Regions from separate parts of the Homo sapiens genome. Here region 2 is linked to region 1. The links come from fine-mapping of genetic effects on gene expression. A gene starts in region 1. The other region holds a variant in brackets. All regions are shown on one strand. Distances are from middle to middle. Region 1 holds the start of OR1L8 (olfactory receptor family 1 subfamily L member 8). Region 2 overlaps PDCL (phosducin like).

Region 1 (5,385 bases):
AACTGTAAAGAATTCTAGGAAATGTATTCTTTTTATTTCTAGCCTTCGACGTACAGGATGGCACACTAGAATGCGGTCAGAATGAATGCCGAGTGCCAATGATCATTTACAAATAAAACCATTGAATAATAACCTTTCTGTTTCCCTTAGTTGATAGGTCTAATCTGTAATAATGTAAGTTTCCATATGGTCAAAGCAGAGGAACACCAGTGCTAAGGTATTTAGTACAGTCTGCATTTTTCAGGGCATATGACTCATGCTGAAGATCGTAACAATGCCAAGAAGACACAAGAATATGAGAAAGGAATTCCTAGAAAAAAGGCAAAGGTTTCAATGACTAAGCTAATTTTTTCTAAGTCTACTGATAACATACTCCCTACCCCATCCTCCATTAATAAAAGAATGGTTGTTGTATTGTATTATGAGGGAATTAAAAGTGTGATAAGACTGTGCTGGTGTCAGGGTATGTTTGTGTTGTATTTGTTTTTTGTTTTGGGGTTGTTAAAAAATATACTTTTGTTCTAGGCTGAAGCTACTACACTGTGGATCAATAAAACTACTAAAAAGTGTCCCAAGTAACTACTATAATGGTAATTTGCTTTCTTTTAGTAATAAGAACACACCACAGCACAGCTACAATAAAATAAGGTCCTAGAATGAGCAATAGGCCTTTATTTATAAAATTAAGCAATACTCAGTGTCTCTCTAAGGCCAGCTCTAAAAAGAATTCGACTGAATATTAAATATAATTATAATGGTTTATATTTATTTCATAATAGTGACAAATATGGGCTGGGCACAGTGGCTCACACCTGTAATCCCAGCACTTTGGGAGGTTGAGGTAGGCAGATCACGAGGTCAGGAGATCGAGACCATCCTGGCCAACACACTGAAACCCCGTCTCTACTAAAAATACAAAAATTAGCTGGGTATGGTGGCATGTGCCTGTAATCCCAGCTACTTGGGAGGCTGAGGCACAAGAATCTCTTGAACCCAGGAGGCGGCGGTTGTAGTGAGCCGAGATGGCGCCACTGCACTCCAGCCTGGCGACAGAGCAAGACTCCGTCTCAAAACAAAACAAAAAAAAAGTGACAAATATTATATTATGATCATCAGTCAAAGCAATTACAGTTAGGTAAAAAGGTAGGTCATTATAATTAGACTTCCAAAAAATTTTCAAAAATCTTTGTAGGACTCCTGTTTCTAGCAATTAGGCAAACTAAATGCATAGAACACATTTTCATTTCAAAACTCCTAGATATATCTACTTCCTTGTAAGAAAAATAAAATTTAGAAGTCTAGAAATACCAAGAAAATGTGAATTCACAGAGGTAAGCGAGTGCCAATCTTCTTTAAAAATAAAGACAGAGGCCGGGCACAGTGGCTCATGTCTGTAATCCCAGCACTTTGGGAGGCTGAGGCGGGTAGATCACCTGAGGTCAGGAGTTTGAGACCAGCCTGGCCAACATGGTGAAACCCTGTCTCTACTAAAACTAGAAAAATCAGCAGGATGTGGTGGTACACATCAATTGCTTGAACCCAAAAGGTGGAGGTTGCAGTGAGCCGAGATCACGACACTGCACTCCAGCCTGGGCGATACAGTGAGACTCCATCTCAAAATAAATAAATAAATAAATGAATAAATAAGTAAATAAAGACAGAACTTTATTTCTTAAAGCTTCACAAGAAACAAGAGACAAAGCACGGTGTCAAAGCATGGGGAGGAGATCATGGTATTGGAGACCTTTCCCTAAAGCTAGGACCACTGAAGGACTAAGCTCATAGTGTAAGAATTATTTTTTTTAAGTCTAATTTATTTTTGGAGATAGCAAGAAAAAGCAAATTTCTTTTTCTGCGTTTTTGACTTAACCATATTTTTTAAAACTTCTGAGAAGTGTTGCGTTTTTGACAAGGATATATTTTTAAACTTCTGAGAAGTATCAACGTCTAATGAAAGATTGAGAATACACTCAAACTGCATCCATGGCTTAAAAATAATAAACTAAGAAGAATTTGGTTTACGTTGGAATTAGGTAAAAGTAAACAAAAATCCTTTCTGGAAAATGGTTTAAGCCCAGACTTCAAAGACTTTCTAGAGATAAAGTTCCAAAATTTATGAGTTTAAAAAATACAAACAAGGCTCGGCGCAGTGGCTCACGCTTATAATCCCAGCACTCTGGGAAGCCTAGGCAAGAGGATCACTTGAGTTCGGGAGTTTGGGGCCAGCATGGGCAACATAGCAAGATCTTATCTCTGCACAAAATTAAAAAAAAAATTAGCTGGGCATAGTAGTACACACCTGTAGTCCCAGCTATGCAGGAGGCTGACATGGAAGGATCACTTGAGCCCAGGAGTTTGAGGCTACAGTAAGCTACACCCCATTGCACTACAGCTGGGTTGACAGAGTGAGACCCTGTCTCTTAAAAAAAGTTATTTTTTTAAGTTAAAGGAAAAAAAGACATAATGAGCAAGAGTTAGCAGAAATAACAACAGAATGAGACTAAAAAAGTTAGTAGCCACAATTTAAAAATAATCAGGAGTACATATATATGAGAACAAAATAAAAATCTCTAGAAATAAAAGTGTAATTAAAATGAAAACTAAAAGCAGCTCAACAGCAATTTAGATACAGCTCAAAAGAGAATTAAATAAAAAATAGAGCTAAATCATATAGATTATAGCAGAGAGAGAATATAAAAGAATAAGGAAATGGGATTATTTTATTATATTATTTTAACATAATATAATCAGAGACTCAATAAACAGGAATAGCAATACGTTTTGATGTGTAAATTTATAAATACTTTCCAAAAGAGGCAAAAGACCAATGTTCAGGAAAACTTCCATGTGGGACAACATGGAGTAAACAATAAATGGATACGCCCCTATTCACTCTAGTCTGATTTTGCAAAACAATCAGGCAAATCCCAACTGAGAGACATTCTATAAAATATTTCATCAATATTCCTTAAAACTGTCAGGGTCATCAAACAAAAAAAAAAACAGTAAAATATGAGAAACTCACAGTCAAGAGAAGCCGAAGGAGACAGGATGACTGAATATAATATAATATCCTCGATGGGATCCTGGAACACAAAAAAAGGATATTAGATTTTAAAAGTAAGGAAATAGGCCGAGCGCACTGGCTCACGCCTGTAATCCCAGCATTTTGGGAGGCCGAGGCTGGTGGATCACCTGAGGTCAGGGGTTTGAGACCAGCCTAGCCATCATGGTGAAACCCCATCTCTACTAAAAATAAAAAAAAATTAGCCGGGCATGGTGGTGTGTGCTTGTAATCTCAGCTACTTGGGAGGCTGAGGCAGGAGAATCACTTGAACCTAGGAGGTGGAGATTGCAGTGAGCAGAGATCGTGCCACTGCACTCCAGCCTGGGTGACAAGAGCAAGACTCTGTGTTAAAAAAAGGAAAAAAGAAAAAGTAAGGAACTAGGAATAAAGTGTGAACATTAGTTAGTAAATAAATAAACATCAGGAAAGCCAGACAAAATGTACAAAGCAAGTGATTTTAGATATTGAAAAAGGTAGCATGGGGAGATAGAATTTTCAGAATTGAAGTGTAAGGACTTCAGAAAATCTGCTCCTAAAAAAAGCAACAACAAAAGCTAGCATGTAATCCAGCACTCTAGGAGGCTGAGGTGGGAGGCTCACTTGAGCCCTGTAGTTTGAGACCAACCTGGGCCACAAAGTGAGACCCCATATCTAGTTAAAAAAAAAATACCTGGCAAATGTAGCCAGAAAGATAGAAACTGTTTCTGAGGTAGTCCAGATGTTGGAATTACTAAACAAAGACTTTAAATCAGCTATGTAAATATATTTATAATAGGTAGTAAAATATATATTCATAAGTTATAGAAATCAATGTAATACACCATATTAAGAATAAAAATGTAAAAAACCATATGATCATCTTGATAGGTGAAGAAAAAGCATCAAACAAACTTCAACACCCTTTCATGATAAAACACTTAACAAGCCGGGAAAGCTTGAAAACTTTTTTAACCTGATAAAAGGCGTCTATGAAAACCTCACAGCTAACATCATACTCTAGGGTGAAATACTGAGTGCTTTCCTCCTAAGATCAAGAACTAGATAAAGATGACAGTACTTGCCACTTCTAGTCAACTGTGATGGTTAATAGTGAGTGTCAACGTGATTGGATTAAAGGATGCACAGTATTGCTCCTGGGTTTGTCTGTGAGGGTACTGATTCATGCTACAACATGGACAGACCTTGAAAACATGGGCTGGGCATGGTTGCTCATGCCTGTAATCCCAGTACTTTGGGAGGCGGGGGTGGGGGGTCGGATCTTTTGAGGCCAGGAGCTCGAGACCAGCCTGGCCAACATAGTGAAACGCCATCTCTACTAAAAATACAAAAATTAGCTGGGCGTGGAGATGCACACCTGCACTTCCAGCTCCTAGGGAAGCTGAGGCATGAGAATTGCTTGAATCCAGGAGGTGGAGGTTGCAGTGAGCCAAGATTGCACGAATGCACTACAGCCTTGGTGACAGAGCAAGACTGTCTAAAATATATATATATATATATATATGTGTGTGTGTGTGTGTGTGTGTGTATATGTGTGTATATATGTATATAATGTGTGTATATATATACAACATTATGCAAAATGAAAGAAGCTAGTATAAAAGGGCCACATTATATGATTCCATTTACATGACATGTCTATAAGAGGCAAATCCATAGGGAAAGAAAGTAGATGGGTTGTTCCTAGGGGTTGGGGACAAGGTAGAATAATGACTTACTGCTAATGGGTACTAGATTTTGGGTTATGAAAATGTTTCAAAATGAGATAGTTGGGAGAATTTTACGACTCTGAATTAAATTTACTGAATTTACTGAAATTACACTGAATTTTATGGTATAGGAATTATATGAACAAAGCTATTTTTAAAAGGCTATGCAAAACAGCTATCCTCAACAAGGTTGGAAACTTAGGGATGATCTTTCTTATTTTCAGTCCTACTATCTGGAGAGCATTTCCAGGCTTCACTGTAGAAAGGAAAAATCAAAAATATTCCAGCAAACTCTTTTAGTTGAGGAGACAATGTTTGAAGACCAGGGAAGCCTCAGCTTCCCTAGTAGCTGGGACTGCAGGTGTGCACCACCACGCCCAGCTAATTTTTGTATTTTTAGTGGAGACCGCGTTTCACCATGTTGGCCAGGGAAGCCAAGAAAGCTAGAATTCTTGGGACAATACCAGAAAAAAGGAAATTGTGCAGAGAGAAATATCAGATATTTTCTGGTGGGCTTTCTTGGGCCTTTGACTGGGTTTAGATCTGAACATGTGTGTGAATAAACTACCTGAGGCTGGAGAAAGTATCACTAGAAAAGGCTGGGTGGAACAT
Region 2 (5,385 bases), 240 kb after region 1:
TCATTATGGCAAACTCCTTCAGAGTCATCTGCAGGCGGACCAGCAAGTGAGCATAAATATGAAAACTGAACACTCGTGATAACAGTTAATATGGGCCGGGCGCGGTGGCTCACGCCTGTAATCCTAGCACTTTGGGAGGCTGAGACGAGCGGATCACTTGAGGTCAGGAGTTCAAGACCAGCCTGGCCAACATGGCAAAGCCTCATCTCTCCTTAAAAAAAAAAAAAAAAAAAAAAGTTAGCAGGGCATGGTGGTGTGCACCTGTGGTCCCAGCTACACTGGAGGCTGAGGCACAACAAGAATCACTTGAACCTGGGAGGCAGAGGTTGCAGTTAGCCAAGATCACACCAGTGCACTCCAGCCTGGGAGACAGGGTGATACCCTGTCTCCAAAAAAATAAAAAGAAATAAAACAGTTAACATGTACTACATGCTGATAATATATAAGGCACCATGCTAAGTACTTTACATGCATTATATCTCACTGAATTCCATAACTCCATCGGGAAGGGACTTTTAATAGCCCCACTTTATAAATGAGGTTCCAAAACTTGACATTATTTGAACAAGTTCACCCAGTAAGCATAAGACCAGTACTCAAACTAGATTTTAAAAACCCATGTTTTTAACTACAATATCACATTTCCTCTCAATCCAAATAGGCAGCATCATATAATCTCACTTCATGAGCTTATTTCTTTTTGTCAGTCTTGACAATATTTTATCTACTTTTTTTTTGAAAGATAACAAGACATTACAGAATTTTAGAAAAAACTCTCATAACCCCTGCCCCACACCATCCCCAAACACACACACACACACAGAGTCATATGGACTCTAAAAATTATTTTTATTACCAGTCATACTAAAATAGTTTTGCTTTTATAGCAGCAGCTGTGGGTGTACCAATTAAGCCATAACCTGCTTTCGAGACTTAGCACGATTATAAGTATTTCCTCATGTTTCCAAATATTTTTATGAAATTATATATAATGTGTCACTTTGCTTAATCACTTCCCTAATTCTGCCAGACAGTTTCCAATTCTGTTCTATTGCAGATAAATCAGCAGGACGGGAACAGCCTCTCACAAGACTGATCCATGTGATGATATGATGTTGCCTCATTCTGGCCTCTCACCTCAGTATCAGGAAGCAGCTGTGAGCAGCAGGCACAATGCCCAAGAGACAGCTTAAGCTACGAAAGCATCTTACCCCTGCCCCGGTGCAGCAAGACATCCTCGCTCCTCTCATAAAACCTAACTCTGCCTAATGTTGCATAGATTAGGGAACAGGGAGTGGGAGATCACACTAGATCAGAACACGTTGTTACTTTATCATAACCAGCAACATTCTGAGTTCACTATTTTACTTATTGCCAATTTTCCTCCCATCTTGCAGCCCTCCACTTCAACTCAGTCTACCAGAGTGGCTTCTTCTGACCTATTGAAGTCTTTGGCTAAGTGTAATGTCCTAAAATCAGCCTCCTGGTCAAGGTGAATGATTCCCAGCTTAATCCTCTTATCTGCTCCCTGATCCTGTGTGGTATTTTAGCTTTGGGCCATAACTAAATGATCTCAGGCACTCACAGACATTCGTCCACACTCAGAGGGCATCCAGAGAAACAGTGAATCCCTTTTAATACTGATAGGATAAGAGGCCATCACGGGCCGGGCACCACGGCTCACGCCTGTAATCCTAGCACTTTGGGAGGCTATGGTGGGAGGGTCCCTTGACCTCAGGAGTTCCGAGACCAGCCTGGGCAACATAGACCCTGTCTCTATTAAAAAAAAAAAAAAAAAGGCCATCAGGTGCCTACTTCCAAATATCTTCCAGAGTATCTGTTTGCTTATTATAATGCCTCCTTAGAATAAATTCTCATGAATAGGCTTCAGATGAAATAGCAACATCATGGAAGAAACAGGAGTATTTGGGTTAGAACCCTAGCGCCTACTAGAATTTACCAGTTGCATTGCCCTGAACAAGCCTCTAATGCCCTCTAAGCATTGCTTCCATTATCTGTAAGAAGGGGATAATACCACCACCCTAAGAGGGTTATTTCTGGCCCAAGATAAAACCTCAATAAAAGAAGGGAAACTAAAATTTACTGAGCACTTTCAATGGGCCAGACACTGTGATGGGCATATTAACAACACAGCCCTGCACGGGGAGGATACATCATTTAACCATTGAAACACCAGATTCAGAAGGGAAGAGACTCTCCCACAGTCACTAGTAGCAGAACTGAGATCCAAAGCTGGGTGGGTTTGAGTTTTGACAGGGCTCTATGATTTCTCCTGCACTGCACAACTTCTTGGAGGTCAAATCAAGCATCCTCCACCTCTTGAATCACTCACCCAGCTCTAGCAGCCACAGCAGACTCTAAGAAAAGCCTGAGTACTGCTAATTACCTTCCCACTGATCTTCTCCTGGAGGTCTTTCTGTTTCTGTTGCTCCTCCTCTTCATCCAGATGGGACCTGCAAGTCATTGACAGCTTCTTGATCAGCCTTTCCATCTCCCGGCACTGCTCCTCCCTCTGCTCTGTCTCCAACTGCTTGAAGCGGCGCCAGTCATTGATCACACCTTTTGGGCCTGAGTAGGGTGAACACGGATGTGACCAAGGAGAATGGGCAGGGAATTATGGACCAGCTGACATCTGTAGGTAGGAGTTCACATCTGCCTGAAGCTTGCTCCATCTACTGCACAATTATCATAGGGACTCTGTGTACTCTGCCACAGGGCAGAGTGGCCTATACACAATGATGTACCCTGCAACAAGGGCCAAGCTAATGCCCAACATTAGGAGATGAGTTTAAAAAATTATCATCTACCTACTCAAAGGAAAATAAAGCAACTCTTAGAGTAAAGCAGCTCTGTGTTTCCTGCCATTAAAGATATTCCAAATATATGAGGTTATTACAAAAGCAAAATTTAGAATATCACGGTACAATCCTCTAGTTTCTATTAAAAAAGACCTGTATGTATATACATAATTTATGTACATAGATATGCATACATGTTTGT[A/G]TATACACTTGTGTGTTTATAGAATAAGAGCTTGCAGGATATGTAAGCTGTTAACAGTGGTTGTCTCCAGGTAGTAGGATCTAAGCAACTGGTGAGAGAGATCTTTTACTTTTTTCTTTCTGTACTTCTATATTATCTGAATTTTTTTTTTTTTTTTTGAGATTGAGTCTTGCTCTGTGGCCCAGGCTGGGGTGCAATGGCGCGATCTCGGCTCACTGCAACCTCCACCTCCCAGGTTCAAGCAATCCCCCTGCCTCAGCTTCCCGAGCAGCTGGGACTACAGGCATGCGCCACCATGCCCAGCTAATATTTGTATTTTTAGTAGAGACAGGGTTTCACCATGTTGGCCAGGATGGTCTCCAACTCCTGACCTCAGGTGATCCGCCCGCCTCGGCCTCCCAAAGTGCTATGGGATGATGGGCATGAGCCACCGCACCTGGCCTCTGAATTTTTTATAACAATTTTTTTATAACAAGATTGTAATACAACCTGTTCTGTTATTCCAGCTACCCTTAACCCGTCAAGCCCTGTGCTGCCGAAGGACTTATATGTCCTTGCACCTTGCTATGTGACTTGTGGTACCTCCTGTGGGATGAGTACATATATCCCCAGCCCATTGAGGCTGGGCTTGACTATGCGACTTGCTGGCCAATGGGATTGTGAGCAAATATGAAGTATGCCATGTCTGAGCAAAACAAAAAGTATGCCGTGTATGAGCCATTCCATGTTTCCAACAGCTCCTCTCTTGCTCTCTATGCTTCGCCATGAAAACGGTGTGTCCTAAATAGAGGGACACAGCCAAACTGAGGCTGTTATTCTTTCAGCCTAGCTCCTAGATGAAAGAACATACGAAACATAAGCAGGGCTGCCATTGACCTACAGGCTGCATGTAACGTGAATGAGAAATAAACCTTTGTTGCCATAAGCCACTAAAGCTTTGGAGTCTATTGGTTTCACAGAAAAAAAATATACAAATCTATATGAAGACAACTTTAAAATGCTCCCAAAAAATACTTGAAAGACTTGAATAAATGGAAAAGCAATACCATGTTCCTGAACAGACATACTCAACATCACAAAAGTGCCAATGATCCCTAAATTAATCTATATATTTAATGCATTCCCAATGAAAATACATGAACACACATATGTGTCCGGCTCCTAAATTTCCTTTGGAAAAAATAAAGCAAAAGTTAATTGAAGAGGGTCTAGCCTCACCAAATACTAAAATATAACACTACAATAATTAAAAACAGTATGACACAGCCCAGTAAAAGACAAATCAATGGAAGAGACCACATAGTACAGCTAAAGACCCAACATAAACAGAGAAATTCAGTACATAATAAAAGTGACATCTCAAGATAATAAAGATGGCTTATTCACTAAGCAGTACTGAAACAACTGAGTAGCAATCTAAAAAAAAATTAAACTGGAGCCCTACTGCACCCTGCATCAAAGTGAATTCCACATGAATCAATATTTAAGTGTAAAAAATGAAATCACAAAAATACTAATGAAAAGTATAGGAGAATCTTTTTTTTTTTTTGGAGACAGAGTCTCACTCTGTTGCCCAGGCTGGAGTACAGTGGCATGATCTTGGCTCACTGCAACCTCTGCCTCCGGGGTTCAAGCAATTCTCCTTCCTCAGCCTCCCGAGTAGTTGGGCCTACAGCCGCATGCCCCCACACCTGGCTAACTTTTTGTATTTTAGTAGAGACGGGATTTCACTGTGTTGCCCAGGCTGGTCTCGAACTCCTGAGCTCAGGCAGTCCACCCGCCTCAACCTCCCAAAGTGCTAGGATTACAGGCGTGAGCCACTGTGCTCAGCCAGGAGAACCTTTTTATACAGCAAAGTGAGGCCCTTTATAAAGTAGGGTGAAGAAACGCCTTTTAAGTAAAATGCAAAATTAAGAAACTATAAAATACTTTTAAGTACATAAAAATAAAATTTTTCATCCAGGAAAAGAACAAAAGAATATAAAGTCAAAAGACAACAACAAACTGAAAGAAATATTTACCACTCATATCACAGATTAATTTCCTTTATAGCTCCCCAAGAAGAAAAAAAACACCTAATTTTTTAAATGAGCAAAGGATATAAAAATCTCTCTTAAAATTATGAAAAGAAGTTTAGGTTCCCTCTTAAAAATAAATATGGGCCCAGTGCATTGGTTCATGCCTATGGGACGCTGAGGCAGATGATCGCTTGAGGCCAGCAGTGTGAGGCCAGCCTGGGCAACAAAGTGAGACCCCATCTCTACAAAAAATAAAGAAATAAATTAGCTGGGCACGGTGGCAAGCGCCTGTGGTCCCAGCTACACGTGGTCCCAGCTTTTTAAGAGAGGAACCTCATGGAAGCTG

The links.
Region 2: its variant is fine-mapped to the expression of OR1L8 in subcutaneous fat (GTEx, PIP 0.93).

The regions. Positions count from the first base shown.
Region 1 is chr9:122,580,296-122,585,680 of GRCh38, forward strand. OR1L8 (olfactory receptor family 1 subfamily L member 8) reads right to left here and starts at 3,089. Exons shown (of 5, transcript NM_001004454.2): 1 at 3,026-3,089. It also overlaps a transcript of OR1J2 not described here.
Region 2 is chr9:122,820,609-122,825,993 of GRCh38, forward strand. It overlaps PDCL (phosducin like), which reads right to left. Exons shown (of 4, transcript NM_005388.5): 3 at 2,408-2,589; 4 at 1-28. Among named protein-coding and RNA genes, the nearest start is that of PDCL, 5.3 kb to the right of the region's middle. The variant A/G (reference allele first, on the strand shown) is at 3,022.